Homo sapiens: one gene and its partner. The protein of the gene in region 1 purifies or fractionates together with the protein of each later gene. This does not show direct contact. Each region holds a gene or a part of one and is shown on either strand. Other genes may lie near its edges.

What was found.
Region 2: the proteins of LIG1 (region 1) and PRIM1 fractionate together in Homo sapiens (co-fractionation; one large-scale study listed by BioGRID). This does not show direct contact.

Annotation. Positions count from the first base shown.
Region 1 is NC_000019.10:48,160,345-48,163,844, forward strand, and holds part of LIG1 (DNA ligase 1), read right to left. Parts: intron 2,008-3,500; coding exon 1,918-2,007; intron 1,164-1,917; coding exon 1,028-1,163; intron 1-1,027.
Region 2 is NC_000012.12:56,738,824-56,742,323, forward strand, and holds part of PRIM1 (DNA primase small subunit), read right to left. Parts: intron 3,015-3,500; coding exon 2,923-3,014; intron 2,754-2,922; coding exon 2,612-2,753; intron 541-2,611; coding exon 471-540; intron 1-470. UniProt on the Homo sapiens protein: Catalytic subunit of the DNA primase complex and component of the DNA polymerase alpha complex (also known as the alpha DNA polymerase-primase complex - primosome/replisome) which play an essential role in the initiation of DNA synthesis.

The DNA of each region.
Region 1 (3,500 bases):
AGGCTGGGAAAGAAGGTAGTGGCCCAGAGGTGGAAGTGCACCTGGTGGGTGTGGGAAGCCAGGATGGAGCGAGCTGAGGAGGAGCTGTGGATGCGGCTGCAGATGTGATGGGCGGGGGAAGAGAGGAGCAGCAGGAGGGGCCTGGGAGGTTTCCACAAGGCCTGGCTTTGGCCTGTGGTGGTAATACCAGGGGGTTTGGGCAGGGAGTCACAGGACCTGACCTCACCACTGACAGAATAAGCAGCACCACGCTTTGGACATCATCCACAAAGCAATGAACAAGCATTAAATGACTTAAACAGGGGAAGAGAGTGGTCCAATGTATTTGGAGAAGTTAAAAAGCCCTCTGACCACAGGAGAGGCTAGATATACTTTTGAACCCTTATTTTTTTGCTTTTTTTTTTTTGAAGCAAGGTCTTGCTCTGTCACCCCGGCTGGAGTACAGTGGTACAATCACAGTTCACTGCAGCCTTGAACACCCGGGCTCAAGCGATCCTCCTGCCTCAGCCTCTCAAGGAGATAGCACCACAGGCATGCACCACCACACCTGGCTAATTTTTAAAACATTTTTTTGTAGAGATGGGGTCTCGCTATGTTGCCCAGCCTGGTCTCGAACTCCTGGCCTCAAGTGATCCTCCCACGTTGGCCTCCCAACGTGCTGGGATTACAGACGTAAGCCATTGTGCTGGGCCTTGAGCCCTTGTTTTACCATCAGGCATTATTCTCAGATCTGTATGTAAATCGACTCATTTCATCTTCCCAGTCACCCTATGAGGAAGGTGTTACCAGGAGCTGCATGTTACAGTTGAGGCATCCAAGACCTAACGTGGTGAAGGAGCCCACCCGAGGTCCTAGGGCAGGGGCAATTAGGACCAGGTTGTGTCTGCCCCCGACACAACCAGGAAACACATCTACCTCTCCCGGGCAATTTCTCCAGAATTCTCCTGAACAGCTGCTGCACTCTGTTCCAAAGGTTAATGGGAATTAGTTTCTTCTGGTAAAAATGGGCAGGGTGATGGGGACCTACCTGGCCTTTAGCAGGGCTAAGGGCTTCATCCTCCTCTTCCCCTTCGCTGCCCAGGACCCGGGCCGCCTTCCTCCCTGGCCTCTTCACCGGAGAGTCACTCTCGGACACCACTCCATTCCACTCCTTCAGTGCCGCCCTGGAAGGTGGGGAAATGGGGGTGTAAAGGGGCGACTACAGCAGGCAGAGTGGGGGCACTGCCCGCAAACACTTTGGTTTCTTTGCTGTTTCCTTCCCTTCCTTTCAAGCATCCAATGAACATTTTCTGGTTGTCTCCTCAGCAAATCTCATCATTTCATCCATCAGTGCATTAATCCACCCGCCCACTCATCCACTCACCCACCCATCACACATCTCTGGAAGTCTCCAGAGTGCCTGCCCTGTGATGGGTGATGCTGAGGAGCAAATGGAGTCCCTGCCTAAGGTTGCCATTGGTCTCCAGCATCTATTGGGATGCCTTTTTTTTTTTTTTTTTGAGATGGAATCTTGCTCTGTCGCCCAGGCTGGAGTGCAGTGGGCCGAGATCACACCATTGCACTCCAGCCTGGGTGAGAGTGAGACTCCATTTCAAAAAAAAAAGAGTACTGTTGTCTTCTACTTAGATGAGACAGCATCAAGACGTGGCCAGTGGCCAGCGGCCAGCTTCTCTGCATTATGGAGAATGTCTGGTTCTAGAACGAGGCCAAGACCTGCAGAAACAGAGACGTACAGACAACTCCGAGGCCCTGGATCCAGCTGTGCCTGCAGCTGCTCTTGCTCTTGGACTTCTGGCCACCTGGCTGAAAAAGTTTTTTGGGCCCCAAGACATTTTGCATTAGGTTTGAACACTTGCAACCAAGACAATCCTGACTGCTAAAGGAAAAAATTCACCATATCCCAGCCCTGTGACATACTTTGGAGGGGGCTCCGTCTCTCTGCTGCTATTGGATGCCTCCTTCTCAGGCTTCTTTGCTTTACCCTCTTTCTTGGGGTGGAAAAATGACCTAGAGGAGCATAAAAGGGGGTAAAAAAAGGAGAATAACAGCACCAATACCCTGCCTATCTATGCTGTATCCTATAACTTCCTTTTTTTTTTTTTTTTTTGAGACAGAGTCTCGCTCTGTAGCCCAGGCTGGAGTGCAATGGCGCAATCTCAGCTCACTGCAAGCTCCGCCTCCTGGGTGCATGCCATTCTCCTGCCTCAGCCTCCCAAGTAGCTGGAACTACAGGCACCCGCCACCATGCCCAGCTAATTTTTTGTATTTTTAGTAGAGATGGGGTATCACCGTGTTAGCCAGGATGGTCTCGATCTCCTGACCTTGTGATCTGCTTGGCCTCCCAATGTGCTGGGATTACAGGCATAAGCCACCGCGCCCGGCCGCATCCTATAACTTCTAACACCATTTCCATCTCAGCACATAACAGAGAATTTCAAATAAGCCCTTTAACTTAACTGATAAGGAAACTCAGACTCAGACAAAGGAGGCAACACTAATTTTTCTGCCCTAACGCACCTGCAAGATATGATACATCCCAAGTTTTATTCAACAAATATTAACTATGCACTTTTTAAATCTTTTTTTTTTAGACAGACTCTCGCTCTGTTGCCCAGGCTAGAGTGCAATGGTGTGATCTCGGCTCACTGCAACTTCTGCCTCCCAGGTTCAAGCGATTCTCCTGCCTCAGCCTCCCGAGTAGCTGGGATTACAGGTGCCCACCACAACGCCCAGCTAATTTTTTTTGTATTTTTGGTAGACACGGGTTTTCTCCATGTTGGCCAGGCCAGTCTCAAACTCCTGACCTTAGGTGATCCACCCACCCTGGCCTCCCAAAGTGTTGGGATTACAGGCATGTGCCCCCGCGCCCAGCCTAAAAAAATTTTTTTTTTTGAGATGGAGTTTTCACTCTTGTTGCCCAAGGGTGGAGTGCAATGGTGCAATCTCGGCTCACTGCAACCTCGGCCTCCCAGTTTCAAGTGTTTCTCCTGCCTCAGCCTCCTGAGTAGCTGAGATTACAGGTGGCCGCCACCACGCCCGGCTAATTTTTTTCATTTAGTAGAGAAGGGGTTTCACCATGTTGGTCAGGCTGGTCTCGAACTCCTGATCTCAGGTGATCCTCCTGCCTCCCAAAGTGCTGGGATTACAGGTGTGAGCCACTGCGCCCGGCCTACCTAAGCACTTATTATGTGCCAGGGCCTGTTCTGGGCCTGAGGGGTTTGGCAGTGACCCAGACACACGAAGTTCCTGCCTTCAAGAAGCTAACACTCTGGTGAAGGGCAGAAATATTAAGCAAACAACTAAATATAAAATGTTGGGGCCTGGCATGGTGGCTCACACCTGTAATCCCAACACTTTGGGAGGCCGAGGTGGGCGGATCACGAGGTCAGGAGATCAAGACCATCCTGGCTAACACGGTGAAACCCTGCTTCTACTAAAAATACAAAAAAAATTAGCTGGGTGTGGTGGCAGGCGCCTGTAGTCCCAGCTACTCAGGAGGC
Region 2 (3,500 bases), on another chromosome or scaffold:
ACAGGCATGAGCCACCGCGCCTCACCACGAACAAGAGAAGTTTAATGTTGGTTTCTGATCAGCATTATCCAGTGTATAATAGCATGTGAATCCCATAAAATTTACTGTAAAAAAATTATGCGGCCAGCTAAATTTGGGATATTCTAAACACCATGATCTCTTCTTGGAGTTTTTCATGCATATTATCATATGAAAGACTGTGAAATACTGTAGTAAAAGATACTTTTAATCTGTTTAAGTCAGAATTTCCTAAATTTACTTGACCTTAAAATCTTTTTCTTACATAACAGCAGGTGAAAATCTTGTATTGTTCTATTAGGGCATCGTCATCTAACCTTTGAACCTTATTTGGTTTCCATAACCAAATATACCATTCCCATGCAACTACTTCTCTAAGGAGGCTAATTCAATTTATTTAAAATTCATAACAACAATTACAAACAAGGAGTGATCAATGATCTGAAACATACCTTATGGTCGGAACAGTAAATGGATCAAACTGGTCCACTTTCTGCAAATCAATAGGCACAGATATGCGACCTGTAAGACACAAAAGTTATAAACTGATGATTGTGGACTATAAATCATTATAGTCATCTCCTACAGGTTATTTTTGGTTAAAATTTTTATTTAAGGCTTAGACAAAGGGTTAAACTTATCTGTTAAGAAGAGTATTTAGAAATATAAATTACTTTCACATTAGCTGTGCCCTTACTCTTTTTTAGAGTTAATGCCTCACTTTGTCACCCATGCTAGAGTACATACAGTAGCATGGTCATAGCTCACTGCAGGCTTGATGTCCTGGGCTCAAGTGATCCTCCCACCTCAGTTGTCTCCCAAAGTGCTAGGATTATAGACGTGAGCTACTGCTCCTGGCCTGGCCAGTTTTTCAATTTTTGTTGAGTTGGGGTCTCACTATGTTGCCCAGAACTCCTGGCCTCAAACAATCCTCTTGCCTCAGCCTCCTGAGTTGCTGGGATTACAGGTGTGAATGACCATGTCCAGCATGCCTTTTATTTCTCTTTAAAAAACCAGCCAGGTGCAGTGGCTCACGCCTGTAATCCCAGCACTCTGGGAGGCTGAGGAGGGTGGATCACAAGGTCAGGAGTTCAAGACCAGCCTGGCCAAGATGGTGAAACCCCGTCTCTACTAAAAATACAAAAATTAGCTGGGTGTGGTGGCGGGTACCTGTAATCCCAGCTACTTGGGAGGGTGAGGCAGAGAATTGCTTGAACCTGGAAGGCAGAGGCTGCAGTGAGCCAAGATCGCGCCACTGTACTCCAGCCTGGGTGACAGAGTGGGACTCTGTCTCGAAAAAAAAGGAAAGAAAAAAAACAAAAACAAAAACCAATAAGCAAATGTGAAGACTGTTGAGCTATTTCCCAGTTGCTCTTATCCCTACTTTTATTTCTATATTTAGAAATAAAGTATATTTAAATATTCCATATTTAAGTTCAGAACAATCTCAGAGTTAGTGAGTCCTGAAAATAGAACAAAATAGATGAAACTATAATATTTACATTGGCTTGGTTTATTTGAGATCAATACAGATACCCACATGTCAGACACCTTTAAAAAGCATTTAGGAAATAAAATAGAAATTCCTCTACTCTTTTATAATACCCCCCTAGGATACCATATAGAATTTAACACATCTCAAAAGTGACGTAATGAGGCTGGGCGCAGTGGCTCTTGTCTGTAATCCCAGCACTTTGGGAGACTGGGGCAGGTGAATTGCTTGAGCTCAAGAGTTCAAGACCAACCTGGGCAACATGGCAAAACCCTGTCTACAAAATATTAGCTGGCTGTGGTAGCACATGCCTGTAGTACCAGCTACTCAGGAGGGTGAGGCAGAAGGATCGCTTGAGCCGATCGGTGAGCCGAGATTGCACCAGTGCACTCCAGCCTGGGTGACAGAGTGAGACTCTTTCTCGAAAAAAATTTTTTTTTGTTTTTGTCAGTGCTAGGAGTAGAGTTCATTTCATTTCTTTCTTTTTTTCTTTTTTTTGAGACAGGGTCTCACTCTGTTGCCCAGGCTGGAGTGCAGTGGCACCATCACAGCTCACTGCAGCCTCAACTTCCCAGGCTCAAGTGATCCTCCTGCCTCAGCCTCTTGAGTAGCTGGAACTACAGGCATGCACCACCACGTCTAGCTAATTTTTGTATTTTTTGTACAAAGGGTGTTTAGACATGTGGCCTAGGCTGGTGTTAGACTCTGGGGCTCAAGTGATTTGCCCACCTTGCCCTCCTCAAGTGCTGGGATTACAGGAGCAAGCTACCACATACAGTCACACACAATTTTTTTTTTATGACCTTGGATGGGTTACATCTTGGGCCACTGTTTTCTCATCTGTACAATGAGAGCTGTTGTCCTAAGATTTTGATGGTCCTCTCCAAATCTAATATGGAACCTCAGAAACCCAACTGAAAAACAGTTACATAGTAGAAACTCATCTGGTAGCTACTTAACTGACTTAGGTATTGGGTGACAGAGCAATTCTTCTACCTTTAAATCATAGACATTATATATATTCAGACCTAATGCCATGCTTACTAAAGCCAATAGCAACTCATTTTTCTTTTAGTTTTCCTTAGTTTCCTTGTGTAGTACCTGTTTTAGGATGAACACTAAAAGGGCTCTTCAGTAGATGATTGATTCCTTTGCTGACATTGATATCCAGCCGTGGAAAACAGTACTGGAGCATAATCTCCCACTCCAGCCAGGGTCCATATTTGTCATTTTTGATGTTATTCTAAAAGCAGATACAAGGCCAACATGAGGATCAGTAGGAACTGTTGAAGATTTCTTTAAAGAAAGTTAAAAAAACGATCTTCAACCATCTTTAACTGACTAGGCAAAGCAATCAATTTAATTAAGAATTGCATTATTATATCTGTAATACAGATTTCAGTGGCATATACCTGATATCTGCTGGCTACTTTCTTCAAGTGCTCCCAACGCTGAAGTGAATTGTGAGACTTTTGGAAGCTTTGTTGAAGTTCATCATGAATTGGTGATGGGTCATTAAGGAACAGACTCATTTAGGGAACATCAATGAACAATTTAGTTTTAAGTATGTATTACCACAAGGGTGTCTTACAAATATTCAGAAAGTAGTTATTAACATTTCTTGAAATATAAATGTTGACTGGGCGTGGTGGCTCATGCCTGTACTCCCAGCACTTTGGGAGGCAGAGGTGGGTGGATCACGTGAGGTCAGGAGATCGAGACCAGCCTGGCCAACATGGTGAAACCCCATCTCTACTAAAAATAGAAAAATCAGCAGGGCATGGTGGTGCACATCTGTAATCCTAGCTACTCTGGAGGCTGAGGCAGGAAAATTGCTTAAATCTGCAAGGTGAAGGTTGCAGTGAGCTGAGATTGTGCCACTGTGCTACAGCCTGGGCAACAGAGTGAGACTCCATCTCAACAACAAAACAACCCACCCCACAAATGTTAAACTCAACAGCTGTATCCGGCCGGGCACAGTGGCTCATGC